Homo sapiens: one gene and its partners. The protein of the gene in region 1 binds, or shares a complex with, the protein of each later gene. Each region holds a gene or a part of one and is shown in the gene's direction. Other genes may lie near its edges.

Evidence for each region.
Region 2: LIN54 (region 1) and LIN9 share a complex: the UniProt entries of both Homo sapiens proteins name them as parts of the DREAM complex.
Region 3: LIN54 (region 1) and RBL1 share a complex: the UniProt entries of both Homo sapiens proteins name them as parts of the DREAM complex.
Region 4: LIN54 (region 1) and RBL2 share a complex: the UniProt entries of both Homo sapiens proteins name them as parts of the DREAM complex.

What each region holds. Positions count from the first base shown.
Region 1 is NC_000004.12:83,007,664-83,015,581, reverse strand, and holds the start of LIN54 (protein lin-54 homolog), read left to right. Parts: upstream 1-4,758; 5' UTR 4,759-5,098; intron 5,099-7,918. UniProt on the Homo sapiens protein: Component of the DREAM complex, a multiprotein complex that can both act as a transcription activator or repressor depending on the context. In G0 phase, the complex binds to more than 800 promoters and is required for repression of E2F target genes.
Region 2 is NC_000001.11:226,299,107-226,306,299, reverse strand, and holds part of LIN9 (protein lin-9 homolog), read left to right. Parts: intron 1-1,936; exon of another isoform or gene 1,937-2,038; intron 2,039-5,094; coding exon 5,095-5,127; intron 5,128-7,193. UniProt on the Homo sapiens protein: Acts as a tumor suppressor. Inhibits DNA synthesis. Its ability to inhibit oncogenic transformation is mediated through its association with RB1. Plays a role in the expression of genes required for the G1/S transition.
Region 3 is NC_000020.11:37,085,850-37,093,042, reverse strand, and holds part of RBL1 (retinoblastoma-like protein 1), read left to right. Parts: intron 1-3,920; coding exon 3,921-4,054; intron 4,055-7,193. UniProt on the Homo sapiens protein: Key regulator of entry into cell division. Directly involved in heterochromatin formation by maintaining overall chromatin structure and, in particular, that of constitutive heterochromatin by stabilizing histone methylation.
Region 4 is NC_000016.10:53,429,501-53,437,470, forward strand, and holds the start of RBL2 (retinoblastoma-like protein 2), read left to right. Parts: upstream 1-4,970; 5' UTR 4,971-5,056; coding exon 5,057-5,296; intron 5,297-6,118; exon of another isoform or gene 6,119-6,226; coding exon of another isoform or gene 6,227-6,244; intron 6,245-7,970. UniProt on the Homo sapiens protein: Key regulator of entry into cell division. Directly involved in heterochromatin formation by maintaining overall chromatin structure and, in particular, that of constitutive heterochromatin by stabilizing histone methylation.

The sequences.
Region 1 (7,918 bases):
CGGGAGTCTCGCTCTGTCGCCCAGGCTAGAGTGCAGTGGCGCGATCTCGGCTCACTGCAACCTCCGCCTCCTGGGTTCAAGCAATTCTCCTGCCTCAGCCTCCTGAGTAGCTGGGATTACAGGTGCCCGCCACCACGCCCAGCTAATTTTTGTATTTTTAGTAGAGACGGGGTTTCACTATGTTGGTCAGGCTGGTCTCGAACCCCTGACCTTGTGATCCACCTGCTTCGGCCTCCCAAAGGGCTGGGATTACAGGCATGAGCCACTGTGCCTGGCCTGATTATTTTTAATAAGGACCATTTAGTCTCCTTCTTCCTTTATATTATACCTCTTCTTTCATTTTTTCTTATTTAACTTAGCTAGGACACACTCAAAAACGGTAAACAGCTACTATATCCCTGCCTCCTTATTGAGTTTCTGATTTTAAGGTGAAAGCCTCTGCCATTTCACTGAAATGTATGGTGTTGTTCTCTGATGATTATCTTGATCCAATTAAGGAAACATTCTTTTATTTCTAGTTTACTAAGAATTTAAAAAATTCAGGGTGGTTATTGAATGTTATACAATGTATCTCTAGAGACTATCATTTGGTTTTTCTCCTTCAATCTAATAAATTACACTAGTAGATTTCTTAATGTTAAATCACTGTTTCGGTTAAACCATATACTTTGTCATGATGTAAATTCTTTTTACTACCACATTGCTGGAATTTGATAACATCTTTTTTTTTTTTTTTTAAAGAGTCTCACTCTGTTGCCCAGGCTGGAGTGCGGTAGTATGACCTCGGCTCATTGCAAACTCTGCCTCCCGGGTTCAAGTGATTCTCCTGCCTCAGCCTCCTGGGTAGCTGGGACTACAGGCGCATGCCACCACGCCCGGCTAATTTTTGTATTTTTAGTAGAGACAGTGTTTCACCATGTTGGCCAGGCTAGTCTCAAACTCCTGACCTCAGGTGATCCACCTCCCTCAGCCCCGCAAAGTGCCAGGATTACAGGTGTGAGCCACTGCGCCCGGTCTGATAACTTCTTAATTCTTTTTATTTAAAAAAATTTTTTTTGTAGAGATGAAATCTCACTATGTTGCCCAGGCTGGTCTCAAACTCCTGGTCTCAACCCATCCTCCTGCCTCAGTCTTCCAAAGTCCTGCGATTACAGGTGTGAGCCACAGCACCAATAACAACTAAATACTCAATTTTGCCTTCATAACAAAATCATAGCAAGAAAGGAAGTTTCCCTTCTCTTTTTTGGGTACTGTTTGTCTTGGGTTTTAGTATAAGAGTTATGCTGCCTTGTGGAATAAACTGGGAAAGGGTCTCCTTTTTTTGAGATATTTTGGTCTCTCTAAAATCTAGCCAGTTTTGGGTACCCCATCTCATTCTTTTCTTCCTTCCAGTGGTGCCCCAACAGCACCATCAATCATTTTACCATGAGGATTTCTCACACTAGCTCTCAAGGTTCCTCATAAAGTGGGCTCACAATGCTGATCTCCAACAAAGCCTTTGTGTCATTCAACTTTATCACATTACTTACACATGTCACAGACCTTCCCATTTTCAAGGCTTTGCTAATTTCATGACATTTGCCTTGTTAAATCCTGACTATTAGTGTTTGGGCTGGTACTGGGTGTTGATTATGGCACAAGGGAACTAACATTTCAGGCAGAGACTGTGTACCTGCTTAACACCCTTCATTTTATTTAACCATCAGAATCCTGGGAAGTTTTGTTATTTTTATTTGCTGGATAGGAAAATAAACGTTATACAATATACACTAATAAACGGAGGTGCCATTAAATACCAGTACTGCTTGATTCCAAAGTGACTGCTGCCTCCCCTACACTGTTTCACCTCCTCCATTATGTTCCCGAGGTAGTCTCTCATGCTGACCTGTATGTCCTCCGTACTCCATTAGCAAATTATACACTGTATCGCACCATCTTACATTTACACTCTTGTATTTTCTATTTTCGTATATGTAGTGCTTGTCGCACTCACAGCAGTTGATAATAATCTCTCAGAATAATTTTTTTTTCCCCTCAGAATGATCTGTCAGCGTCTGTTCATCCGACTCCGTATTTGGATATCATATAAATCGCGGGAAAAAATAAAAGGTGATTAAATACAAATAATTTTGACTGTGTTAGTCTTAGCTGCGTGTTGCAAGAAATGCAAAACGTCTTTCAAAATAAGTTTAACTCTCAATGAATCTCCCTGTGGCTTTTTAGCGACACTGCAAAACTAGTGCCTAAAAACACAGTGACTTGGCATTTGTGACTACTGATCACCTCCTCACTCAAGCACATCAAACAGCGGGATATCCTGGAAGTCGCACCTACAACCCGGACTTCCTAACAAGGAAAGCTAGACGAAGGGACGGTCTCTCCCAACCGCAGCGCGATGCGGGTCCTCCCCCCATCAGCTTCAGTCCGATGGAACATTCCGTGCGATCGCTTTGACCGGGCGCCACTCGGCGTCACGTGGAACTGGAGCGCCCTGGCGGAGCCCGGCGGAATGACGCGGGCTTGGGTTGCCAAGGGGAGGGACGAGGCGCCGCGGAAGAGGCGGAGCGAAGGAAGCCGGCCGTGGGGCGGGGTGCGGAGCGCAGGGGCGGGCAGAGAGGGGCGCGCGGGCGGGGAGGGCCCAGCGTATTATGGGATGCGGCGGTGGAATGGGGCTGGGCGCGTGATTTTGAACAAACCCTGGTCTGTGTCTCGGAGGCGCCGCCGCCGCCGCTGCTGCTGGGAGCCCAGGGAGCGCCGCGCGACCAGGAGGCGGCGGCGCCGCCGGCTTTGGTGAGTGTCAGCCCCCGGGATGGGGGCTCCTGGGCGGGCTGGCGGGAAGGGGGAACCGGCCCCCGCTGCGAGTGCCTGCGCGGGCGGAGAGCGCTGGACCGCTCCCTCCGGGAGCCCGGGCCGGTGGGCCTTGGCGGGGAGCGGGAACCCGCCAGCGGGGTCCGCCGCGCCCCTTCCCTGAAGCTGGGTTGCGGGGGGCGAAGGATCCTTGGGGCTCGGTCTCTTCCCGTCGGCTCCCGAGAGGGTGGCTGTCACCCGGCAGGGCCAGCGCTCGGCCAGCCGCCTGCCCGGCGGTCTGGAGTAAGGGCTCCTGCGGCTGTTGACACGCACACTGCGCGACCCAACAAGCCACCCGTGGCGGCCCCAGGTTTCTGGGAACCGGTTTTGCTGCTGTGTCATTTTGTGCCAGTCCCTCCTCTCCCTACTGCCCGCCGCCGCGTTCTTCCTATGCCCCTTTGTACAGGCTCTTGTTCGTGCGTGTCCGTTTTCCTCGCGAAGCCCACCAGCCAAATGTCATAATGTTCCCGAGGTGCACGGGGGAAGGGAGCGGGCCGGGACTTAGCTTGGCCAGCAACGGTAAACAACCAAGCAGAGTGCGGATGGACGGGGCCGTCAGTGGGGAAATGAAGTTTAAAGATGAAGTAATTGAGAACACTTTATACTCTCAGCATCTGGTAGTCTGCATATAAAAACAGCAATTGGGGTGGGTGGTGGACAGCCCTTGTTGAAGGCTGAATCTACCGACTTTTATATGGAGTTGCCATTGAAACAAGGTAGGGAAATGAAATGACTTTTTCAACTTCAACTTCAACCTTACTCTTCCTACACTAACTTAGACAGTAGAGTGGCCCTGTTCGCAGCCTTGAAATTCAGTTTGCCCAGAGCTTATGTTGTGGTTGAATGATACAGAATTCAGCTTTTGGATGGTTAACTCTTTCTAAAATTGACAAAGGCAGCCAGTTTCCTTTTTTTTTTTTTTTAATGCTGATCTCTTCAGAAGCCTTGCAGCTTATGTTTTGTTATTTTTTAAATGATTAAGAATTACCTCTGTTCTCTTTTGGTTACTTATTCAACTGACTGATGACAAGAGCTGGTAACTCTTACCTACCTAGTAGGTAGCTCTAGGATCTTGTTCTGAAGCAAGCTGTTTATTTTTACTGTACAGAACAAATATATCAGCAGCAGATGGTTTTTTTTTAATTTGATGACTTAGATCCTAAAAAAACATTTGGCAAATAATTTTAGCTAAGAGTTATATTTTCAATATTTTAGAAATCGATCATTCATGAATGTTTCTACAATTAGTTCAATCATTTCAAATCTAGTTGCGCTTTGACGTCTTAAACCGATGACAGATTGGAAGTCGCAGTGTTCATGGACAGAAATGACCAGATAAATTAAGTTGGAGAGGAAGATAGCTCAGAACTTTATTTTTTTAAATTAGATATTTTGACCACTTCATCTGCATGAGGATTGCTGCCTGTAATTGACAAAGGTGTCAAAGGTCGAACATGCATATGGAAATAGCTCATCCTGTCAAAGTAGTTCTGCGGGTGGGGTAAAATGTCAAAGTTGGTGAATGACATTAAAGGTCTTTCACAGTGTTTTTAGTGCCTGAGATAGCCACAGTGAATGAAACGCATTCCACCATCTCTCTCAAGTTGCTGCTCTGAAAATGAAAGAGTTTGGGTTCTTTATTGTCCTTATGCCACCCTCCGCATGGCTTTTGGTCTTGCAAACAAAAATATGCCGGACTTGGGACCCCGCAGGTGGCGCGACTTCCTTTGGCGTCCCTGCGGGGGCCCGTGCTCCGCCCGGGGGTGAAAGGTCTCGGCGTAGCCCGTGTGCACTTGCACGGCCCTTGTGCGTTTGAAGGTTGGCGGGGCGGCGGGAGGCTTCCCCGGATATGTGGGTGTGCGCCTCCCGGGTGGGGCGGGCGGGGAGGGGAGGAGGAGGAAGGGGGAGGTTACTGGTGGTGGCGGCGGCGGCGGCGGCCCGGGCTCCGGCTGTCGGGGAAGCTGCTGAGCTGTGATGGTGATGACGAGGTGAAAATGGCGGATCTTTCGAAATACAATCCCGGCCCCTGACATACCAGAGGCGGCGGCGACGGCGACGTCGCCACCCCGGCTCCCTTCTCGGTCCCCGGGTACCCTGGAGCGCTCCAGTTTGGACAAACTGGGAAAGGAAGCTGCTGGCCAGAGCTATCGTGCACGGGCAAAACAAGCCCCGCCGGGGCTCGGGATTGCCCAGGACCTTCTGGAGCCCCTACCTCGGAGCCCGAGGGAGGAGAAAGCGGCAGCCGCTGGAGGTAGAGGAGGATGGGGTACCCGAGGGCTTCTCTGTCCGGAGATCTCTTTATTTGGGGGGATGGGGGTGGGTGGGGAAAGAATTGCGCGGTGGATCAAGGAATGACTTGTCCGGAGTGCGAAGAATCAGTAGCCTCGTCATGACATCAACATTATTCTTTGAGTGTTAAGAGGGCTCCAGTTTGCTCTTATACCTAAGGCTGCTGCTGAGGCCTAGAGGAACCGCTAGCACTTATCATGATTTCCTGATATAATGTTTAAAACAGCCACTCTGGCGGGTGTTGCTTTGATGGTGTTCAGCAGTTCTTGGGGTTGTACGTTTCTTTAGGGAGGCAGAGCATTGGCATTTTATCTGCATTTAAGATCTGTGTCTTAGATCCTAGTCTGTAACTTGTTGGGTTGTGGATGTTCACATTTTATAGAATAGGGACCAGTTTTGTAAGAATTAGAAAAAAAATTTTTAATGCTCTGTTATCCTTAGAGTAACTAACCTCTTTGCCCCTGCCATTTGGCATATAACAATTGAGATACTCTCAGTTATATTTTATACTCATGCTTTTCAGGGAAGTTCTTCTCTATACTCACCCTCCTGCCCCCGCCAACCTAGTTCATGAATTCAGAGAGTAAAGTTATGAAAAATTTTGCTGTAGATTTTATAATGCAAATGAAATACAGCTCTAGGAGCTCTCTTTTGGTCCTGAGTTTTACCTTCATTGTTAAGAAGGAGAGTTGCGATGGGGTGATGCAAGCATTTGTTGTGAGTACATTAAGTTGGGAAAAATAAATTGAGACCTCTGTTATTTCTAAATCACTAAATGCTGGAGTGATTAGCCTAGCCCTTTGTTTAGAGAGCTGGATTGATTGACTATAACAGCCACTGTTTTATTAGGTTATCTGAAGACCCATGTTAAGTTTTAGGTTATGCTGAAAGATCCGTAAGGAGTCTGTCTCCTTGCACACAACACTAGTGTTACAGAAAAGTTACATGTGAATCAAATTTTTAGGCTGGGCAAAAAAATTTTTATACATTAATTTGGACCCTATGCTTTTCCCCCAGCTTTTTTGGGTCAATGACATTGAGTGTATAATGAACAGAAGGATTAGTATTGAGGAATGCCCATGGGTAATGTTTATGATTAGCCCTAAATTTCCGTATTCAAATTGTCTACAGAGAGTATATGTGATATTATTTCCTTATTCAAATTGTCTACAAAGAGTATATGTAACACACTGTGCCATAGTGTGTCATATATCACAAATTTTGTAGTTTACTTAGAGGGGAAATATTTTGTGTGAATAGGTGTGTATAGTTTGTAGGTCTGGCTTTCACTTACTAGAAGAATAAGAGACCCAAAAAAATTTTTAGGAGAAATACCTTAGAGGTACTCAGAAGGTTTAATGATGACGATAATGATTATTTTTTAAAAATAATTTGTCTGATGCTGTATTATTCAGTAGGTATTTGGTTTTGTCTTTTTAAAATTACAGTTTTTATGTTGCAGTTATTTGACCCATGCCTTATAGCTGCTGACTCAGTAGTAAGACTAAGAATTTTAAAAATAATTAAAATAGGGAGATTAAAAAGCTTTTTCATTGGCTTTCTTTTAATCACAGAGGGCTATTGTCTCTTTGTGATTCTTTGTGATTGTCTTTAAAGACCAGTTTTCAGATTGTCCTGGTTAGAACAATTGTGTATTAATAATTAAAAGTGTGTTAGAAATGAAGCAAGAATTATACCACCAGAGATAGTCCAGTGTTCATTTTTTGGGGGAAGAGTATTATAGATTTTCACTACTTTTTCTTTATTTTTTTCCAAGGCAGAGTTTCACTCTGTCGCCCAGGCTAGAGTGCAGTGGCGCAGGCTAGAGTGCAGTGGCGCGATCTTGGCTCCCTGCAAGCTCCGCGTCCTGGGTTCACGCCATTCTCCTGCCTCAGCCCCCTGAGTAGCTGGGACTACAGGCGCCCGCCACCACGCCGGGCTAATTTTATTTGTATTTTTAGTAGAGACGGGGTTTCACCATGTTAGCCAGGAAGGTCTCCATCTCCTGACCTCGTGATCCACCCACCTCGGCCTCCCAAAGTGCTGGGATTACAGGCGTGAGCCACTGCGCCCGGCCGATTTTCACTACTTTTTCAAACATTATTATTGGGTGTCTATTAGGTGTCATATAGTATGCTAGGGATAGTGGATAAAATAACCTCAATATCATTACTTCAGGGAACTTTCAATTTAAGAATCACTGGAGGTGAAGTTGGAAGGATCAATTCAGTGGGGTCTTGCTGCAGAAGGCCTTAAGAGTTACAGAAAATGTAACTTAGTGTAGGATAATGACAATCTCAGAGATATACTTCAGAAGATAAATCTTGTACATGTAGCTTTTATGTAGAATGCATTGTAGGTAAGGGGAGATGGAGGTAAAAACACCATAGTAGGCTTCAGGAGTTGGAGATTTAGACACAATTGGTTACAGGAGGATAGAGTCATGGTGAAGGTGTAATCTGCATGATATATGACAGATTAATATTTCTATGGAAAGAGAGATGTCAAAGATAATACAATTGTAAGCCCTGGTGTTTGATAGAATTTTTTTTTTTTTAAATGAGATGGGTTCTCACTCTGTCACCCAGGTTAGGGTGCAGTGGATCTCAGCTCACTGCAACCTCCGCCTCCCAGGCTCAAGTGATAATCCCACCTTAGCCTGGTGAGTAGCTGGGACCACAGGCTTGGGCCCCCACGCTCGGTTAATTTTTTGTATTTTTGGTAGAGACAGGGTTTCACCATGTTGGCCAGGCTGGTCTCAAACTCCTGAGCTCAGGCGATC
Region 2 (7,193 bases), on another chromosome or scaffold:
TAGGCTGGAGTGCAGTGTGCGATCTCAGCTCACTGCAGCCTCCGCCTCCCGGGTTCAAGCCATTCTCCTGCCTCGGCCTCCTGAGTAGCTGGGTTTACAGGCGCCCGCCACCACACCTGGCTAATTCTTGTATTTTTAGTAGAGGCGGGGTTTCACCATGTTGGCTAGGCTGGTCTCAAACTCCTGACCTCAGGTGATGCACCCGCCTCAACCTCCCAAAGTGCTGGGATTACAGGGGTGAGCCACCGCGCCCCCAGCCACTTTCCTCCCTTTCACTTCCCATATTTAAGCCTTTACTAAGTCTGTAAATTTTACCTTCTAAATATCTATCAATTCTACCCATTTCTTACCATCAGCATAGCCCAAACTGTTACCATTTCTTCTCTTTACCAATTACCTCAGCCTCTCATTAATTCAGCCCCCTTCCCACAAACACACAGCGAGAGGGATCCTTTCAAAACGAATGTATGTCATCCTCCTGTTACAAACCCTTTAGTAGCTATAAGACCCTTTGTGGTCTGGCTGCTCCCTACCTCTCAGCTTTATGTTTTACCACTTGTCCCCTCATTCTATCCCTTGGGGTAAATTGGACCTTTTTCATTCCCGATACTCGCCAGTCTCCCCTTTTCTCCAGGGTCTTTGCACATGCTGTTCTCTCAACCTGGAATGCTACCCCCCCACACCCCCCTTACTTTCAGTTAACTTCTAATTGTCTTTTAGATCCCATTTTATGCTTCTTCAGAGAGCCATTTCCCATCCTCCCTGACTAAATTATGTCTTCTTTAAATCTGTTTTTTGTTTTTTAAAGAGACAGGGTCTCCCTCTGTTGTGTAGACTGGAGTGCAGAGGCATGATCGTGGCTCACTGCAGCCTTGATCTTCTGGGCTAAGGAGATCCTCCGGCATCAGTCTCCCCAGTAGCTGGGACCGCAGGCATGTACCACCATGCCCAACTAAGGTTTTTTTTTTTTTTTTTTTTTTTTTTCTTTTTTTTGTAGAGACGAGGTCTCCCTATGTTGCTCAGGCTGGTCTCAAACTCCTGGCCTCAAGCGATGCTCCTGCCTTAGCCTTCCAAAGTGCTGAGATTACAGGCTTCAGCCACCATGCAGGGCCTATCTTTATTTTTTTTTAAAGATGGAGTCTTGCTCTGTCACCCAGGCTGGAGTGCAGCGGTGCAGTCTTTGCTCACTGCAACCTCCGCCTCTAGAGTTCAAGCAATTCTCCTGCCTTAGCCTCCTGAGTAGCTGTGATTACAGATGTGTGCCACCAAGCCCGGCTAACTTTTGTATTTTTAGTAGAACCTGGCTGGTCTCGAACTCCTGCCCTCAAGTCATTTAGCCCCCCAAAGTGCTGGGATTACAGGTGTGAGCCACTGTGCCAGGCCAGGCCCATATTCTTTAAATCTTTTTGTATTACTATGTAACTTCCTAGTGGCAGCTATTACAGTTGCAGTTTTGTATTTGTTTATGTGATTGGTTAGTAGCCCCATCAGAGCAGGTACTGTCTTAATTGCATTCCCAGTTCCATGCATAACACCTGGCTTACCTCTGCCCTTTCATACCATTCTTCCCTATGCAAGCACAGTCACCCCTCCTCCCTTCTTAGGACTTAACCTGTTTCTTCTGCCCAGACTCATTGCTTTGATTTCCTGCTCTCTCACAGCTAGTTTTTTAGATGTTACCTCCTCAGAGAAACCGTCTGTACTCAAAAGTAAGGTAGCTAGTACTTAGAGTAATTCCCCCGTCCCCACCAATATCACCCTGTTTATTTCCTTTATCATGAGCTATAATTATTATGTACGTGTTTTATATATATATGTCTCTTTCCACTAGAGTTTAAGCTTCCTGTGAGGAGAGGCTTTGTTTGTCTTGTTCTTTGGGGTAACCCTCGCCCCTAACAGTGCTTATGGTAGGCATTCAATAAAATTTTTTTTTCCACATCAGATGGGTCATGTGCTGACTTTTCACAAAGTTTGAGAGAGACACATCTCACACATGAGTATGAAAACCCAATCATCATGCTTATGAACTAAGAAGGGTAGAATCTTTGGATTAATGAACACCTCGTTAGAGCAAGATTCTAATTTAATCAGATTCGCCTGACTGAAAAATCCATGTTCTTAACCTATTATTTTTTGATTGCTCAAAATAATACTAACAGCATTATATCAAAATTAACTGTGTAATATATGCATTGTTCTATGCACTTTTACATGTATTAACTCATTTAATCCTCATTTTACACATGAAGAAACAATAGCACAGAGAGGCAAAGTAACTTGCTTAAGGTAGCATGCAAGAAAGTGTCAGGACCAAGATTCAAACATAGCTAGTCTCAATCTAGAACCTGTTTTCTTAACCACTATGCTATCCTGCATCTAGAAAAAGGAAAGAAGGACCGGTTGCGGTGGCTCACGCCTATAATCCCAGCACTTTGGGAGGCCGAGCCGGGTGGTCACCTGAGGTCAGGAGTTCGAGACCAGCCTGGCCAACATGGCGAAACCCTGTCTCTACTAAAAATACAAAAATTAGCTGCGTATGGTGGCATGCACCTGTAATCCTAGCTACCTGGAAGGCTGAGGTGGGGAGAATTTCTTGAACCCGGGAGGTGGAGGTTGCAGTGAGCTGAGATTGCGCCACCGCACTCCAACCTGGGTGACAGAGTGAGACTCCATTTCAAAAAAAGAAAAAGAAAAAAGAAAACGAAAAAGAAAAAAAAGGTTAAAGGTGATTGGTCAGAATCCCCAAGATATGGTTCCTGCCTTCGTGGAGCAGGAGTGGATATTCTTATGGCCTATATACCTCTTCCTTCAGATCTCTGCTTAAGCATCACCTTTCATAGAAGCTCATCATGAACACCTTATATACAAATAGTTTTCCTTCCCTCCATCCCCACCCTGCGTATTCTTCTTCTTCTGCTTTATTTTTTCCAGAGTGCTTATCATTACTCGATAGCTGTTTTTGTTTGCCTCCCATCACTAGAATGTACATTCCATGAGAGCAGGGACTTTGACTATTTTGCTTGCTGTTGTATTCCCATTGCCTAGAGCAGGTAGGGACTGGCATGCCATCAGTACTCTACATATTCAGTGAGTGAATGGTTACTACTTTTTCTCAAATGCACTGCATATCTTTTGGTACACAGATGTGTGTATTGTCTACTATTGCTGCTTTACAGTTGTGTTTCATTGTTTGAGACTTTTTAGCAAGATTTTATGTCATTCACCCCCATGACTTTACTGCCTTTTGTCATTAAGCTTCATTTGCCATGCAGAAGCTTTTATGGTGTCCTGTTAACTATTCTTCACATCTGGGCAAGAGAGTAGAGTGAAAGTAAGTGTCTTTAATGCTAATAGGTGTCTGTTTCACAAGTCTCTTACACAGACCTGTGGAGGAAAAAGTCAGTTGAGGTTTAGTGATCAGAGATGCATAGTGTTTAAGGATCTGAGATGAAGTGTTTCATAACTGCCATACTTTATCTGTTGCTTCTCATTTTAAGTCTGTTATCCATTTATATGAGATGTAAATCATAGCTGCTTTTGTTAAATAGCAAGGAGGATTAATCCGTCCTCTCTGATTTTTGTTCCTAGTTCATGTTCTTTTTTATTTAATCCCCTGAGATCATCCTTAATTATTATTTTTCAGATGACTTGGACTTTGCAATGTATACATCCAATTCTGAGATTTTTAAATTTAGTGCTTTCTCACTCTCAAAAAGCTTCTTTCTCTATTGGTTTGTTTTTTTTTTTTTTTTGGACATGGAGTCTCACTCTGTCACCCAGGCTGGATGGAGTGCAGTGGCGCAATCTTTGCTCACTGCAAGCTCTGCCTTGTGGGCTCACGCCATTCTCCCACCTCAGCCTCCCGAGTAGCTGGGACTACAGGTGCTCGCCACCACACCCAGTTAATTTTTTGTGTTTTTAGTAGAGACGGGTTTTCACCGTGTTAGCCAAGATGGTCTTGATCTCCTGACCTTGTGATCCGCCCACCTCGGCCTCCCAAAGTGCTGGGATTACAGGCGTGAGCCACCGCACCCGGCCTCTCTATTGATTTTTCTACTTTCCCTACCCATAGATCCTATAATTCATTCACACCAGAACCTGTAGCCTGATGTTTCTCAAAGTGGGTTACCTGCAACAGAATCCCCTGTTGTTTATTAATAATATAGATTCAGTCTAGATTTTGCATGTATGAGGAGCTTCCTTGTTATTCTAATGTCTTTTTTATTTTTTTGAGGCAGAGTCGTACTCTGTCTGTCAGGCTGAAGTGCAGTGGCACGGTCACAGCTCACTGCCGCCTCAACCTCCCAGGCTCCAGCAGGCCTCTCACATCAGCCCCCTGAGTAGCTGACACTTTAGGCACGTGCCCCCATACCCAGTGAATTAAAAACATTTTTTTAGAGACAGGATCTCCTTATGTTGCCCAGGCTGGTCTCAGACTCCTGGCCTCAAGCTAGCCTTCCCACCTTGGCCTTCCAAAGCACTGGGATTACAGGTGTCAGCCATCATACCTGGCCTCTAATGTACACTGGAGTTTGTTTTATCCAGTGGACCCCTCCAACTTTATTCTAGCCCCTCTTGGCCATTCTGTATTCCCTTTTCCAGCTTAGATCTTGAAGTATCACATATACCTGCATTCTAGACTTTCAAGGGACTTATTGCTTGCTCTGACAGTCCCTGAATCATTTCCATTGCCTGTTTTTTTCCACTCCATTACTACATCAGTCTTTGCCTCAATGGATGTCGGTTCCCTTTCTCTTTTCTTCCAGCACCACAGCACGCCTGGATGAGGATCCAAAATTACCTCTGTCCCCACTCTTCCTCTTTCTTCTGTTTCTTCACTTTCTTCTCCTGGAATGGTCTCCAGTTCTCACAACTTCAGCAAGACTCTCATATGTCTCTCTCCAGTTCTTTCTTTATCTGAGTTCTGGTTTATAGTTTGAATTGTCTGCCAGATATTTCGAATTGCACATTCCACCATCTCTTCAAACTCAACATTACTAAAACTAAATGGATCACTTTTACCCCCAAACCAAGGTCTTTTTCTCTCACTTTGGTTATGAAATAATTATTGATTTGTTTTATTTTTAATTGCAGGCTCTTCAGCAAAAGCCCTTGTCAGTTTAAAAGGTAAGAAGTATAGCATTTTTAGGTATACCATAGCTAAAAGTCTAATTTGTTAAATTAATCTGGATATAGTGTTTCCATTTTCCTTCTAAGTTATGATTCATTGTAGCTTTTCAGTATTGGTTTTCACTGATAACCTTAAATTAATATGCTTTTATAGGAGAATTGATCCTCAGTTGTTAGAAATTATTTTTAAAAATTTCTAAAATTATTGATTAAAAACCTTTCTAATTAAACATTCCATAAATATTTAGATTAAAAGCATTTGTTAAACGACTGTGCTGACCTATATGTTAGCATAATTGTTTGTTTGTTTGTTTTTGAGACAGTCTCTCTCTGTTGCCCAGGCTGGAGTACAACGGTGCAATCTTGGCTCACTGCAACCTCTGCGTCCCAGGCTCAAGCGATTCTCCTGCCTCAGCCCCCTGAGTAGCTGGGATTACAGGCATGTGCCACCATGCCTGGCTAATTTTTGTAATTTCAGTAGAGACGGGATTTCACCATGTTGGCCAGGCTGGCCTCAAACTCCTGGCCTCAAGTGATCTGCCCACCTTGGCCTCCCAAAGTGCTGGGATTACAGGCGTGAGCCACTGTGCCCAGCAGATTTTTTGTTTATTTATTTTTTGAGACAGGGTCTCGCTTTGTCACACAGGCTAGAGTGTGGTGATGTGATTACAGTTCACTGTAGCCTCGACCTCCTGGGCTCAAGTGATCCTCTTGCCTCAGCTTCCCATGTAGCTGGGACCACAGGCACATGCTACCATGCCCAGCTAATTTCTTTATTTTTTGTAGAGAGGAGGCCTCACTTTGTTGCCCAGGCTGGTCTCGAACTCCTGGGCTCAAGGGATCCTGCTGCCTCAGCTTTGCAAAGTGCTGAGATTACAGGCATGAGCCACCACACCTGGCCCGTAATAGCTTATTTTTAAGAGTCTTGCTTTCACTGGGCACGGTGGCTCACGCCTGTAATCCCGGCACTTTGGGAGGCTGAGGCAGGCGGACCACTTGAGCTCAGGAGTTCGTGATTAGCCTGGCTAACAAGGTGAAACCCCATCTCTACTAAAAATACAAAATTATCCGGGAGTGGTGGCAGGTGCCTATAATCCCAGCTACTTGAGAGGCTGAGGCAGGAGAATTGTTTGAACCTGGGAGGCAGAGATTGCCGTAAGCCAAGATCGCGCCACCACACTCCAGTCTGGGAGTCTGGGTGACAGAGTAAGACTCTGTCTCAAATTCCAAAAAAAAAAAAAAAGAATCTTGCTTTCTAAGTAATAATGTCTTGAAATAAAAATAAAAGAATAATAGTACTTTTCTCATTCTAAGAAAAAGTTTGACATGTTCCTTGGTCTCACTATTTCTTTTGGCAGGTACATTAGACTAACCTTTTTAACATAGTTTCTTTAAAATTTTACCTCTTGATTAAGATTCTGGTAGGTCAATAAATTTGGAACCAAGCTAAATATTCTCAAAGTACTTTTAGTCTTTAAAGCTACTATATTGTGCTTTGGATTGGTGATTTACCAAATTAAATCCTTCTAGCTTGAGAAGACAATTTGTCTTCCAGAACACCCCAGTTTGTTTGTCTTTTGTGATTCTTAAAAATTATTCCATTATTCTTTTTCTCCCAATATTAAACTCATTTCTCTCCCCCCTGCCTTTTTTTTTTTTTTTTTTGAGACTGAGTCTCGGTTTGTCGCCCAGGCTGGAGTGCAGTGGCACAATATCTTGGCTCACTGCAACCTCTGCCTCCTGGGTCAAGTGATTCTTGTGCCTCAGCCTCCTGAGTAGCTGGGACTGCAGGCATGCATCACCACACCTGGCTAATTTTTGTATTTTTAATAGAGATGGGTTTTCATCATGTTGGCCAGGCTGGTCTTGAACTCCTGACCTCAGGTGATCCTCCCACTTTGGCCTCCCAATGTGCTGGGATTACAGATGTGAGCCACTGCACCCGGCACTCATTCATCTTGATAAATCATTTATATAAGTAACGTACATTTCTTATGGAAAAAATGAGAAAATGCTGATGAGCCACTAGAAGAAAATAAAAATAACCAGCTTGTATATTCATC
Region 3 (7,193 bases), on another chromosome or scaffold:
TTGTATATCTCACCAATTATAAATGATAGTATCTGTTCCTCTTCTTAGCTCCAGATGTGAAGTTCTGTGAGATCAGAAAACATTTTTTGTATTTCTAAGGCCTGGCAAGTAGGCCTTAGAAATGCAAAAAATGGTTTCTGATATCATAGAATTCATAGAATTTTTATGAAATAGGATTTTATCAAATAGAATTGTATTCTATTTTATTCTCATGGAATAAAATAGTTGACTTTTTTAAGGAAAGAAAGTCAGGCCAGGCACAGTGGCTCACACCTATAATCCCAGCACTTTGGGAGGCTGAGGCAGGAGGATCACTTGAGCCCAGAAGTTCAAGACCAGCCTGGGCAACATAGTGAGACCCTATCTCTACACAAAATAAAATAGGCTGGGCATGGTGGCTCACACCTGTTATCCCGACATTTTGGGAGGCTGAGGCAGGTGGATCACTTGAGCCCAGGAGTTTGAGACCAGCTTGGGCAATATGGTGAAACCCCATCTCTACAAAAATTAGCTGGGTGTGGTGGCATGTGCCTTTAGTCCCAGCTACTCCAGAGGCTAAGGTGGGGGGATTGCTTGAGCCTGGGAGGTCGAGGCTGCAGTGGCCCTCATTCCTGGGAAGTCAAGACTGCAGTGGCCCTGATTGTACCACTGCACTCCAGCCTGGGGCAACAGAGTGAGACCCTGTTTTAAAAAGTAAAATAAAAATCAGTGTATTCTTTAATGTCTTTAAAAAAATCGAAACAATAATTTTAGGACTTATATTTTCACCATCTTGCTAGAATTTTCATTTAGTAGCCTGTATCCAAAGGCTCTATAATACTTGGATGCTAATCCCAAACAACTCTTTCTCTTTTTCTTTTTTGAGACAAAAAAAGGGCCTCAGGCACTTCTCCCATCTCAGCCTCCAGAGTAGCTGGGACTACAGGCGCATACCACCACGTCCTGCTAATTTTTTTGTATTTTGTAGAGATAGGGTTTTGCTGTGTTACCCAAGCTAGTCTCGAACCCCTGAACTCAAGCAGTCCACCCACATCAGCTTCCCAAAGTGCTGGAATTACATGCGTAAGCCACCATGACCAGACCCTATTCCCAAGCAATTCATTAATCAAAGCTTGTAAAAATATTCATCTTTAAGCTTACCTGCCTCATTTAGTGCTTTGAGAAAAGACTTCTCATTCCTTCAGGGTAGGAACATTGGGTTTATTGATGGCCACCCATTTCTACCCACCCCTTTTAGATTATTGCAAGAAATCTTTTTATCAATCTTTTTATCCTTCTAGGGTTTGGTCTTAAAGACAGTCTGTGGAACAGTGTATAAGAACACTATTGTGTTGTGCTATCAGATTTACATCTGTAATTCTTTTTTTTTTTTTTTTTGAGATAGAGTCTCGTTCTTTCACCCTTGCTGGAGTCCAGTGGGTCAGTCACAGCTCACTGCAGCCTTAACCTTCTGGACTCAAATGATCCTCCCATCTCAGTTCCCCAGGTAGCTCTAACTACAGACGTGCCACATACCCGGCTAATTTTTTCCTTTTTTGTACAGACGGGGGTCTCACTATGTTTCCTAGGCTGATCTTGAACTCCTGAGCTCAAGCAATCCTCTGCCTCAGCCTCCCAAAGTGCTGGGGTTACGAGCATGAGCCACTGTGCCTGGCCTTTATCTGTAATTCTTGTTTTTTTTTTTGAGATGGAGTCTCACTCCCGTTGCGCAGGCTGGAGTGCAGTGGCGTGATCTCGGCTCACTGCAACCCCCACCTCCTAGGTTCAAGTGATTCTCCTTCCTCAGCCTCCCAAGTAGCTGGGATTACAGGCGTGCGCCACCACACCTGGCTAATTTTTGTATTTTTTAGTAGAGACGGGGTTTCGCCACATTGGCCAGGCTGCTCTCAAACTCCTGACCTCAGGTGATCCACCCATCTCGGCCTCCCAAAGTGCTAGGATTACAGACGTGAGCCACCGCACCGGCCTATCCGTAATTCTTAATCCTTAAACTTCAGCTATTGTATTTCAGCAGTGAAGTCATGAAGTGATTCTAGCTTGGAGATGTCTGAAGTCTAATGCAGAAAATTGTTGAATTCCCAAATGTCACCTTTTTGTGGCATTGTAAATTGAGATATCTACTAATATAAAGAGCCGTGCTTACTACAGTCGTGTGCTGCAGAATGTTTCAGTCAGTGATGGACCACACATACTTTATTTTTACTATATGTTTTCTGTGTTTAGATACACAAATAATTACTATTGTGTTACATTTACCAACAGTATTTAGTATAGTAACATGCTCCACAGGTTTGTAGCCTAGAAACAATAAGCATACCATATAGCCTAGGTTTAGTAGGCTATGCTATGTTTGCACAACAAAATTGCCTAATGTTGCATTTCTCAGAATATATCCCTGTCATTAAGCAATGCATATGACTGTATTTTAAAGATGACATGTTTTGGGGTAAATCCCCAAATGTTTACCTTACAAAAATGACAGTCTCCTTCATGTTGCGTAAGATTAATATTAATTTTTTATGTGTGACTCCCTTGCCAACTTTTTACTCTGTTCTTGCCTTTCCCTGCCACACTAAAGAGAAACATAAAGCAAAAACGATAGAAACTTCAGGATCATCAAGGCCATTTCTTAAAATCAAGAAAGTCATGCTGACAAATTTTAATAAAACTCTTCTGGTAATTCAGACATGCTTCACTTAATGACAGGGACATGGTCTAAGAAATGCAACATTAGGTGATTTTGTTGTGTGAACTTCACAGAGTATACTTATGCAAACCTAGATAGTGTAGTCTACTATACACCTAGGCTGTTTAATATAGCCTGTTGCTCCTGGGCTGCAAACTTGTTCAGCATGTTTCTGTACTGAACACTATAGGCAACTATAATGGTGAGTATGTGTGTATCTAAACATAAAAGGGGTACAGTAAATTATAATTTTTTAAATATATAGAACAGTTAGAACATACAGTATTACAATCTTTTTTGTGTGTGTGACAGAGTGTCCCTGTGTTGCCCAGGCTAGACTGTAGTGGCACGATCTCTACTCACTGCAACCTCTGCCTCCCGAGTTTAAGCTATTCTCCTGCCTCAGCCTCCCAAGTAGGTGGGACTACAGGTGCATGCCACCACACCCAGCTAATTTTTTGCATTTTTAGTAGAGACGGAGTTTTGCCATGTTGGCCAGGCTGGTCTTGAACCCCTGGCCTCAAGTGATTCACCCGCTCCAGCCTCCCAGGCATGAGCCACCGCGCCTGGCAAGTATTATAATCTTAAGTGACCACCATTGTATATGTGGTCCAGTGTTGACCAAGATGTTATGTGGCATATGCCTGTATTAGATTTGGAGTGTAGGTGAAAGAGTTTTTTTCTTTTTTTTTTTTTTAAGAGACAGGATTTAAGAGACAGGATCTCGCTCAGCTGCCTATGTTGGAATGTAGTGGCACAAACATAGCTCACTGCAGTCTTGAACTCCTGAGCTTAAGCGATACTCTTGCCTCAGCCACCCAAGTAGCTGGGACTGCAGGCAAGCACCACCATGCCTGGCTAATTTTTTTATTTTCATTTTTAGAGTCTACGTTGCCCTGGCTAGTCTTAAACTCCTGGCATCAAGTGATACTCGCACCTCAGCCTCCCGAGTTACTGGGATTACAAACATGAGCCACCAAGCCAGGCTTTTATCTTTAGATTAATATTAATTTAGCATGTTATAGTTGTAAAAACACAGAACTAAGAGTAAGGAGTTTTATACCCATTACTGCAACTAACAGCTTTGTGACCTTGGGCAAATATCTTCACTTCTCTGGCCCTTTATCTACATAAGGAAAATTGAGACCAGATAATTCTACATCTCTTGTTTCTAGAATTAAAGCATTTTAACATAATATTATACCTGTTTTGCTGTTTGTCTTTTGCTTGCCAGGGAGAAGTTACACACTGGTTGGCATGTTCATTATATGTTGCATGCCGCAAAAGCATTATTCCCACGGTTGGAAAGGGTATCATGGAAGGCAACTGTGTTTCACTTACCAGAATACTACGTTCAGCTAAATTAAGGTAAACCTCTTTGATGTTTTTAAATGTTATATAAGCTCTAAATTTTGGAATCAGTTTTCTCTTGTTTTGAGATCATTTGACTTCATTTAATTTTTATTTTATTTATTTATTTATTTATTTATTTTTGAGACGCAGTCTCACTGTGCCAGCCAGGCTGGAGTGCAGTGGCACAGTCTTGGCTTACTGCAATCTCTGCCTCCTGGGTTCAAGTGATTCTCATGCCTCAGCCTCCTGAGTATCTGGGATTACAGACACACACCACCAAGCCCGGCTAATTTTTTGTATTTTTTTTTTTTAGTAGAGATGGGGTTTCATCATGTTGGTCAGGCTGTTCTCGAACTCCTGACCTCAAATGATCTACCCACCTCAACCTCCCAAAGTGCTATGGGATTATAGACGTGAGCCACTGTGTGACTTCATTTAATTCTAAGTTATAACATAGATAATCCTTTCCCAATTTTCATATTCTTTCTCTGCCTTTCTCAAATTCTGCTAGAAACCTCTGTGTTGAATCTTTAGCTATACTTTTTAAAATTAATTTTTTAAAATTTGGAAATAATTTTAGGCTTACAGAGAAGTTACAAAAATAAGAAAAGGACAATACCCATATACCCTTGACTCAGAGTCACCTGTTATTGACATTTTATCCCATTTGCTTTCTCATTTGATTTTTCTTTCTTCAATATATAGATCTTTCTCTCTCTCTCTTTTTTTTTTTTTTTTGAGATGGAGTTTTGCTCTTGTTGCCCAGGCTAGAGTGCAGTGGTGCAATCTCAGCTCACCACAACCTCTGCCTCCTGGGTTCAAGCGATTCTCCTGCCTCAGCCTCCCGAGTAGCTGGGATTACAGGCATGTGCCACCACGCCTGGCTAATTTTGTATTTTTAGTAGAGACGGAGTTACTCCATGTTTGGTCAGGCTGGTCTCGAACTCCCGACCTCAGGTGATCCACCCGCCTCAGCCTCCCTAAATGCTGGGATTACAGGCGTGAGCCAGCACTCCCAGCCAGATCTTTCTCTTTTTATCCTCAACCATTTCAGTCTAAGTAGCATACATTTGTAGCCTTTTACCCCAAAATACTTCACTGTGTATTTCTTTAAATAACTACAGTACAGCTACCAACTTCAGCAAAATTAACACTGATAAAATAATTTTATTTAACCTGCTAACTCTGTTCTAGTTTTGTTAGTTGATTCAATAATGTTCTTTATGGCATTTTTTTTCCTGGAAGTACAATTTCTAATTAAGGATCAGGTATTGCATTTGCTTATCATGTCTATTTATTCTTCTGTAATTAGGAACATTTCCACAGCCTTTCTTTTTCTTTTATGACATTACCATTTTTGAAGAATATAATCCACAATCACTTTGTCCCTTTCTTTAATTAAAAAAAATTTTTTTAGAGGCCGAGTCTTGCTGTATTGCCCAGGCCTCGAGTGCAGTGGCACCTTTTTAGCTCACTGCAGCCTCAAACTCCTCAGCTCAAATGATCCTCCTGCTTCAGCCTCCCAAGTAGCTGAGACTACAATCATGTGCCACCATGCCTGACTGATATTTTTAAATCTTTTTATAGAGACAGGGTCTTACTATGTTGCTCAAGCTTGTCTCAAAGTCCTGACCTTAAGTGGTCCTCTTGCCTCAGCCTTTTTTTTTTTTGGGACAGAGTCTCACTCTGTTGCCCAGGTGGAGTGCAGTGGTGCAATCTGGACTCGTTGCAACCTCCGCCTCCCGGGTTCAAGCGATTCTCCTGCCTCAGCCTCCTGAGTAGCTGGGACTACAGGCATGTGCCACCACGCCCAGCTAATTTTTGTATTTTTCGTAGAGATGTGGATTCACCATATTAGCCAGGCTGGTCTCAAACTCCTGACCTTGTGATCCGCCTGCCTCAGCCTCCCAAAGTGCTGGGATTACAGGCGTGAGCCACTGTGCCCACCCTCATCCCCTCTTTTAATAGATGGTTCCCAATTTTGGATTTGTCTCCTATTAACTTTTGATTAGATGCAGGTTAGTCATTCCCTGATGGAAAACTGTATAAGTGATTTTGTCTCCTGAGGATATCACATCTGATGATGGCATGTGTTATCCATCTGCATCTCATTGGTGATGTTAATTTTTGTCATCTGGTCAAGATGTTGTCCTATTTCTCTACTGTATATTAATTTTTTTCACCTTGCAGCTACTCTATGGGTCTCAGATACATCTTTTACTTACTCTAGTATCAAGCATATAGAATTATTTGGCTGGATAGGAAACAAAACAAATTTAGCTATCCAGTTTGGATTCATGCTAATATTCTTTGTTTCTGGGACAAAACTATTTGTGGTCATTGTCTATTTGCTATTCCTGTGTTTCCAGAATAGAAGAGGAGCAAAGTTTAAAGCCCTATTCAGAAATGGCAAATAGGTTTTAGTTGATGCTAAATTTAAATTTTTTTTTATTTTTATTTTTTGAGACGGAGTTTTGCTCTTGTTGCCCCGGCTGGAGTGCAATGGCCTGATCTCAGCCTCCCCAGTAGCTGGGATTACAGGCGCCCGCCACCACGCCTGGCTAATTTTTTATATTTTTAATAGGGAGAGGGTTTCACCATGTTGGCCAGGATGGTTTCAAACTCCTGACCTCAGGTGATCCACCCGCCTCGGCCTCCCTAAGTGCTGGGACTATAGACGTAAGCCACCGTGTCCAGCCTAAAAAAAATGTTTTTAAACAACTTTGGTTCTAAAAATAAAATAAGATGATAAAAATTAAATGAAGATCAATGGGGTTAATTTTTTAATTGAGCAAGACATTATCATTGTTAGTATAAAACAATCTGATCTTTTTCTGTCAATGTTTGTCATTGTTCATATAATTTCAAAAATCTTTGTAATGACAGATTCTGGGGGAACTAAACAAAAAAGAATTATAACAAAACAAATGTAGAGCAGTACATGGCAGGAGAATCACTTGAACCTTGGAGGTGGAGGTTGCAGTGAGCTGAGATAGCGCCACTGCACTCCAGCCTGGGCGACAGAGCAAGACTCCATTTCAAATTAAAAAAACAAGGCTGGGCGCGGTGGCTCACGCCTGTAGTCCCAGCACTTTGGGAGACCAAGCCGGGTGGATCACAAGGTCAGGAGATCGAGACCATCCTGGCTAACACA
Region 4 (7,970 bases), on another chromosome or scaffold:
CTGTGAGTGTATTAAACTCTTTCTCTAATGCAATTCCCCTATCTTGATAAATCTACTCAGTCTGGGCAGCAGGCCAGAAAAACTCACTGGACAGTTACAATTTCAACTCCTAGCATCTTGCTCAAGAACTAAGACAGAATCAGTTAACCTCCACGATCAAAAATGGCTGTGACTTAAAATCTCTTTCTTTGAAGGAACGTTAATGTCAAACATCATTTTTTTGTCCCACAGATTTCAGTTGGGCAGGGCTCAGTGGGAAGGTTCATCTCTGTTGTATACAACATCAGCTAGGACAATTTGACTGAAGGCTGGAGGATCTGCTTCGGCTTCCAAACTGGCTTATTCAACACAGCTGAGGGCCAGAGGCCTTGGGTCCTATCCACATGGTGATAACTGCAGAATTCTTGGCACATAAAGGCTCCTTCCAAACCTCTGCACTTAAGAGATGACCATATCTCATGAGCAAAAGAAAAGAGAGAGAGAGAGAGGATCAAATTTTTGCATTGCTTCTGGGAGCTTAGGGTCAATTCTCTGGAATGATCCTGGGCTCCCTGCCCCCACCCTCCCATTGAAATCATCAGGAAGAATAGGGGTTCTGTCTTCCAGTCTGTGTAGGGGACAGTAGCCTGACTTTGATAGTTGCTGGCTAGTAGACACAACTAGCCTAATGACATTAACATTGACCCACCTTTTGTAATTTTTTACTCAAGCTCTGCTCTCTCCCCCTCCTCCTTTACTCTTTCTTTAAAAGGCCAAGTCACATCTAAAAAAGTTGGAATGAAGCTCAGCTCTTTCCCTGCTGTCTGTCAGTAGTTACTCAGTAAAATCCGTTTTTCACACTTTAACTAATGTTCGGCTTTGTTTATCTTTGACAATAGGTGACCTGGTCTTTCCCACAGTATGTTGGCTGGGTACAAAGAGTGAATGAAGAATGACTGAGAGAATGAGAGACAGAGAGAGCACATGTGCCAGTCAGGTGAAAGACCTCTTGCATTTTATGACTAAGCTTCATAAGTCAAATAATAACCTCAAGGAAATTTAACTTCTCCATATCAGAGGCATCCAAACCAGAGTGACTCCATCTTGAGTGATGGCTAGGAAAAATGGGGCTGGGACTGGCTGGGCTGCATTCCTAGAAAGTTAGGTATTCCTAGCCCCTAGATGTTTATAGTTAAGGGAACACATTGATAACATTTACTAAACAGACCCAGACTTAGGAGTGTCCTGATATCCCGATATCTTGAGAACAGAAGCATTCCTAATTTTGCTTTAAAGATAATATCAATTCTTGCAAAATATAGTAATTAGGAAGATTAATCCTTTATCACAAACCCTTGTGGCAGAGCACATCTCCTCATGATCTTTCTAAATCCTATTTATAAACAAGTATTGTACCTAGGGTGGATGCATTCCTCCTCCTACTTTCGGGAACGTCCTACTCTCTATGGAGTAACTGTTCTCTCATCACTTTACTTTCTTAATAAACTTTCTTTTGCTTTGCACTGTGGACTCGCCCTGAATTCTTTCTTACATGAGATCCAAGAACCCTCTCTTGGGGTCTGGATCGGGACTCCTTTCAGGTAACACTCACACCCCCATTCCACCCCACCCCCATCCCAAAAGGCTTTGAAAACATTGGTATTAACAAGCAAAGGATATTTTAATAAATACATATTTGATGGTTTATTGCCACCAATTTTGCTTACATTGCAATAATTATTTAAATTACATTAACTTTTACTAAAAATAGTAAAGATAATTTCACATCGTTTGTTTAAGTTAAACAGTTTGAAGTTAAACTTTAATTGTTAAAACAATTTAAGTTTTTCTCTTAGTTGCTAAAAGAAAAACTTTGGACAAGTTAACAGTTTAAGCAAACAACAATTCATGAATTGGGCACCACTTAAAACAAGAAGATATTCAGAGCGCTTCTGCAGGTGAGCAGTAAGCTTTAATAGAAAAGTAAAACAGTTACTTGATTGGCTACAGCTGGGTGTTTGCCTTATTTGGGTGTGAGGGCTGGGCCCGGTGGCTCATGCCTGTAATCCCAGCACTTTGGAAGGCCGAGGTGGTTGGATCATTTGAGGTCAGGAGTTCAAGACCAGCCTGGCCAATGTGCTTAAACCCCGTCTCTACTAAAAATACAAAAATTAGCCGGTGTGGTGGTTGGCTCCTGTAATCCCAGCCACTCTGGAGGCTGAGGCAGGAGAATCGCTTGAACCTGGGAGGCAGAGGTTGCAGTAAGCCGAGATTGCATCATTGCACTCCAGCCTGCGTGACAAGGCAAGACTCTGTCACCAAAAAAAAAAAAAAAAAAAAAAAAGGAAAATCCCTAATTAGAGGCTAGTTGGCAGTTTCTGATTGGTTAAGCTTATGTTTTGTTTTACTGTTGTCTTACTGTTTACACTGAATTCTGGTTTGCTTACATATAAGCTCCAGCTACAGAGACAGATGATATCAGGCTCATGGCCTCTTTATTTGCTTTGACATAGTAAAGTGTTGATAATGATTTCCAAAGGAAGAAATATCATTATTTTAAAATCAATATTCCCAGTGTATATACAGGTAAAATACTAAGATTTTAATACACTTATTATTTATTAATTTATTTATTTATTGAGATGGAGTTGCTCTGTCGCCCAGGCTGGAGTGCAGTGGCATGATCCCAGCTAACTGCAGTCTTTGCCTCCTGGGTTCCAGCAATTCTCCTGCCTCAGCCTCCTGAGTAGCTGGGATTACTGGCACCAGCCACCACTCCTGGCTAATTTTTTGTATTTTTAGTAGAAATGGGGTTTCACAATGTTTGCCAGGCTGGTCTTAAACTCCTAACCTTAAGTGATCTGCCCGCCTTGGCCTCCCAAAGTGTAGGGATTACAGGCGTGAGCCACCGCGCCTTGCCAAATTATTTATTATTATTTTTTTGAGACAGGGTCTCTGTTGCCCAAGCTGTAGTGGCATGGTCACAGTTCACTGCAGACTCCCCAGGCTTAGGCGTTCCTCCCACCTCAGTCTCCCAAGTAGCTAGGATTACAGGCGTGTACCACCACTCTGGGTTAATTTTTCTATTTTTTGTAGAGACAGGGTTTCACTATGTCGCCCAGGCTGGTCTCGAACTCCTGTACTCAAGCAGTCCTCCCACCTTGACCTCCCAAAGTGCTGGATTTACAGGTGTGATCCACAACGTCCAGCCTATATACTTAAGATACTTCTAAACCATTTGTGTTCAACTTCTGTTCTTGCCCCATAGTCACCTTGAGACTCATCACTTAGCCAACTCCAAAAGCATTGCTGATTACTGTGAATTTTACTAAGGTTTTCTTAAGAGGGTTCCATTGTCTCAAAATTGTTCCTGAAATATCCTGTTACCTGTCTACCTGATTTTCTCCTATCTTCAGAGTTCCATTTCCTGTCCTCCCGCCTGTCATTATACCTTCCATAAGCCCCTACTTTTGTCCCAGCACTTTTCCCTCTGTCAGTTTACATATCCCACCAAGCAAAACAAAAATAGCAAAACAGTAATGCCTTCTGAATCCTCAAATTGCTCAATCCTCAGATTGCTCCTCAATCTGGAAAATGTTTTATATCAAGCCCATTTATAAATCAAGGATTGGCAATTTAAAAAATTAAAATAAAGAAAGGAGAATTGGAAATAAAATGAATTGGCTGGGCACGGTGGCTCACGCCTGTAATCCCAGAACTTTGGGAGGCCGAGGTGGGTGGATCACTTGAGGTCAGGAGTTCGAGACCAGCCTGGCCAACATGGTGAAACCCTGCCTGTACTGAAAATACAAAAATTAGCTGGGTGCGGTGGCGCACACCTGTAATCCCAGATACTCAGGAGGCTGAGGCAGGAGAATCGCTTGAACCCAGGAGGCGGAGGTTGCAGTGAGCCGAGATCGTGCCACTACACTCCAGCCTGGGCAACAGAGCCAGACTCTGTCTCAAAAAAAAAAAAAAAGTTTAATTCACGCAGAGCCAGCTGAACGGCAGACAGGAGTTTGGTTATTCAAATCAGCCTACCAGAAAATTCGGAGACTGGGGTTTTTAAAGAATGACTTGGCGGGTAGGGGGCCAGGGATTGGCGAATGCTAATTTGTCAGGTGGGAGGTGAAATCACAGGGGGTTGAAGTGGGCTCTTGCTGTCTTCTGTTACTGAGTGGAATTGCAGAACTTGTTGAGCCAGATTATGGTCTGAGTGGCGCCAGCTAGTGCATCGGAATGCGCGGTCTGAAAAGTATCTCCAGCACCAATCTTAGGTTTTACAATAGTGATGTTATCCCTGAGAGCAATTGGGGAGGTCAGGAATCTTATAGCCTCTGGCTGCAAGCCTCCTAAATCATAATTTCTAATCTTGTGGCTAATTTGTTAGTTCTACAAAGGCAGACTGATCCCCAGGCAAGAATGGGGTTTGTTTTTGGAAAGGACTGTTACAATCTTTGTTTCAAAGTGAAATTAGAAATTAAATTCCTCCTGTAGTTAGTTAGGTCTTCGCCCAGGAATGAACAAGGGCAGCTCGGAAGTGAGAAGCGTGGAGTCATTTAGGTCAGATCCCTTGCACTGTCATAACTTTCTCACTGTTAGGATTTTTGCAAAGGCAGTTTCGTGAACGTACAGAGACAGGCCCTTGCTATTATCCCTATTTTTTAGATAAGGATATCCAGGCGATGAGGAAGTTTTACTTCTGGGAACAGCCTGGATACGAAACCTTCACACGTCAGTGTCTTTTGGACATTTTCTCGTCAGTACAGCCCTGTTGAATGTTCTCACGGTGGGGAGGTACGTGTTTAAAATGCGGGGAAGGTGCTTTTATTTCACCCCTGGTGAAACTAGGGGAGCTAATTTTTTTAAACATGATTTTTGGCCCCCTTGAACCGCCGGCCTGGACTACGTTTCCCAGCAGCCCGTGCTCAAGACTACGGGTGCCTGCAGGCGGTCAGCGTCGTTTGCGGCGGCGCAGGCGCGGTGCGGGCGGCGGACGGGCGGGCGCTTCGCCGTTTGAATGGCTGCGGGCCCGGGCCCTCACCTCACCTGAGGTCCGGCCGCCCAGGGGTGCGCTATGCCGTCGGGAGGTGACCAGTCGCCACCGCCCCCGCCTCCCCCTCCGGCGGCGGCAGCCTCGGATGAGGAGGAGGAGGACGACGGCGAGGCGGAAGACGCCGCGCCGCCTGCCGAGTCGCCCACCCCTCAGATCCAGCAGCGGTTCGACGAGCTGTGCAGCCGCCTCAACATGGACGAGGCGGCGCGGGCCGAGGCCTGGGACAGCTACCGCAGCATGAGCGAAAGCTACACGCTGGAGGTGCGCTCGCGGGCGGAGGGGCGCTTCCGGCCTAGTTGGCGTGAACCGGTGCCTTCCGAGCCGCGTCGCGCGCCTCGAGAGACTCTCGGGCGGGTTGCGGGCTCCCAGCCCCGAGAGGGGTGGGGACTTCCTCTGCGCTATTCCGAGGCTCTTAGCCGCTCCGAGGGCTAACCCGCTCTCGCCGCGCTTTCCTGCGGCTTCCGAATGGGGAACGCGTCTTGCCCTAAAGTAGCACAGCAAGGCTGAGATCGCGCTGGGGTCCCGTTGAGGAAAATGGGTGTGTGTGGCCCATCTGACCCCCCGCCCGCCTTGTTAGTAGAATGAACTAGTGTCGTTGTCAAGACCACACGGACAAGGGGAGGGGACTTGCCCTTATTTGCACCGCGATTAACCGGGTTGTGGCACCTGGGTCTCCAGGCGTCTCCGTCTGTTCGCTTCCCCCTGTTAACCAAATTGCCTTTGCCCTGGCGTTGCGGGCGTTTGAGTCAACGTGCTGATGCGTTTTGGGCTGTGTTTACGTCTGTGTAAACAAATTAATACTCATTTCCCCCCAGGCCAGATGAAATGAGCCCTCCGCCGACCCGGATGTAGACACATGCCCCCATTTGTCACTAGGATCAGGACTGTGGCTACCTCGAGGGCTTTTTGGTCACCCCGGGCATTGCACAGGACTCCTGTTGTTGTTGCGATCCGGGTGTGTTAGGTCGCAGCCTTCGGACAGGGCTTGCAGATGAGAAAAATGGCCATTCTAGCCAGTGAGTGTCAGCTTTGTATGCACCTCCCCTTCATGGGCCAATGGGAAGTGACACGGAAGTACGGATTGTTTATCAGCTGTTTGACTGTGTGTGTGGCATTTAAACCTGAGGCCATTTGATTTCTCAAGTCGTTTTATAATTAATTTGTAGAAAGAGTCGGGCAAATAGGTCCAGGATGCAAAGCCTAACCAAGGTATTATTTAAATATGATGTTTTTGGCTATGTGTACTGATGAGTGAGGTTATTTTTAATTTGTATTTGCATTAATAGAATTTTAATTCAATTACTAGTTCCCTCTTTGAATTGTTAGGTCTGCAGAAGATAGTGTATGGTGGCTTTAGAACCCGACAGACCTGAAACCGCTGGAAAAGTTCAGTATGGTGATCTCTAAACTGGAGATATTTGTGTTTACCTCACAGAGCTGTTCTGAAGATTAAATAAGGCAATAATGTAGTTTCTGGCACATAAAGCACCCATATGGACAGTGTTTTCAAGTTTACTAAGCTCTTTGTATATTTACATGATCTGGCTGAGTAAGCTATGTTCCTATTCATCTCTCAGTGCCTTTCTGTAGTCTGGCAAAGAGAAGGACTGGTTGGCTTTTTATGTTGTTTTTTGTTTTTTGGGTTTTTTTTTGGTAAATGGCCTTAAAGGCTTCCAAACAAGCTCTTATTTTACCCTCAAGATAATCCTGTAAATCAGATAGAACAAGCATTATCGCCATTTATTTGAGGTATTTCAACTCATAGCAGTTAAGTTGTATGAAGTCTAGTGATACATGAGCAAGTATCACGTAATAGCTGGTTAGTAAATTATTTTTGAAAACATGTTTGATTACTCAATTCTTTTGATTACTGAGACTTTAGTTTCAGCTTCTTAGCCCAGTTTATTCAGTAAATGATTTACTCAGTAAAATATTCATCAAATATTTCTTGAGCACCTATTACTTGCTACACATTGTTCTAGGTGCTGGATATAGAGCAGCAAACCTGCTCTTGTGGGGCTTACAGTGAGGTACGCTGTGACAATATGGGATGTCATTCTCATGGGAGTGCAAGGGAAAATAAAGCTCTTATGATGTTTAATACAGAATACTGGTTATGGAATTTTAACTTGATTTCTTGTATTTTCTGTGCATTTTTAACCTGTAACTCATTCTCACAGTCCTCAGCCAAGAAAATGCAGCCTCTGAGACTGTTAAGTAATTTCCCCACTGTGTTATAGCTACTGTATGGCAGAGCCGGAATTTGAAACCAGATCTATTTGACCCTAGAAGATGTGACCATGAGATGTTAATTTTGAGGATAACTTTTTTAGTATTATGGAATTTTCAACATATATTTTTTAGGACCAAAGATAAACTAGGCACAGAGTCTACTCTTTGCATAAATTATTTAAAAGAGCTTCGCGCTCCATTTTGTCATCTAAGCACTGTAAAATTCTCACAAGACTAATTCTTCTTTTTAGGAACGATATAGTTGTAAACTTTCTATTTTTTTTCTTTTTTTTTTTCTCCCTCCACCATCCAAGTAGTTGTGAATTTTCTAGAGCCAAAATAGAACATTATAGATTATCTTTTAAACCCTTTATTGAAGCAGAGGATAATGCTGTGACCGACTTAACTTTATGCTTTCTAAGAGATATTGATATAGTAGAGAAATGCAGTAGTTATGCATCTAAATTTGCTTTTACATCATAAATCAAGAATATTATGAAACCATCTCCCAGAGATATATGTGATACACAGATCTTGGCTGTTTTTTTTTTTTTTACAAAAGAACATCTATGCTATTGATACATATAAGTGGGTTTGTAAGACAGTCTATGTGTAAATGTGAAAAAAGGAAGAATTTCCAGTTCTTCTCATTTTCATTTAGACCAGTAATGAATACATTGAAGCTAAAGGACATCTTCCATCC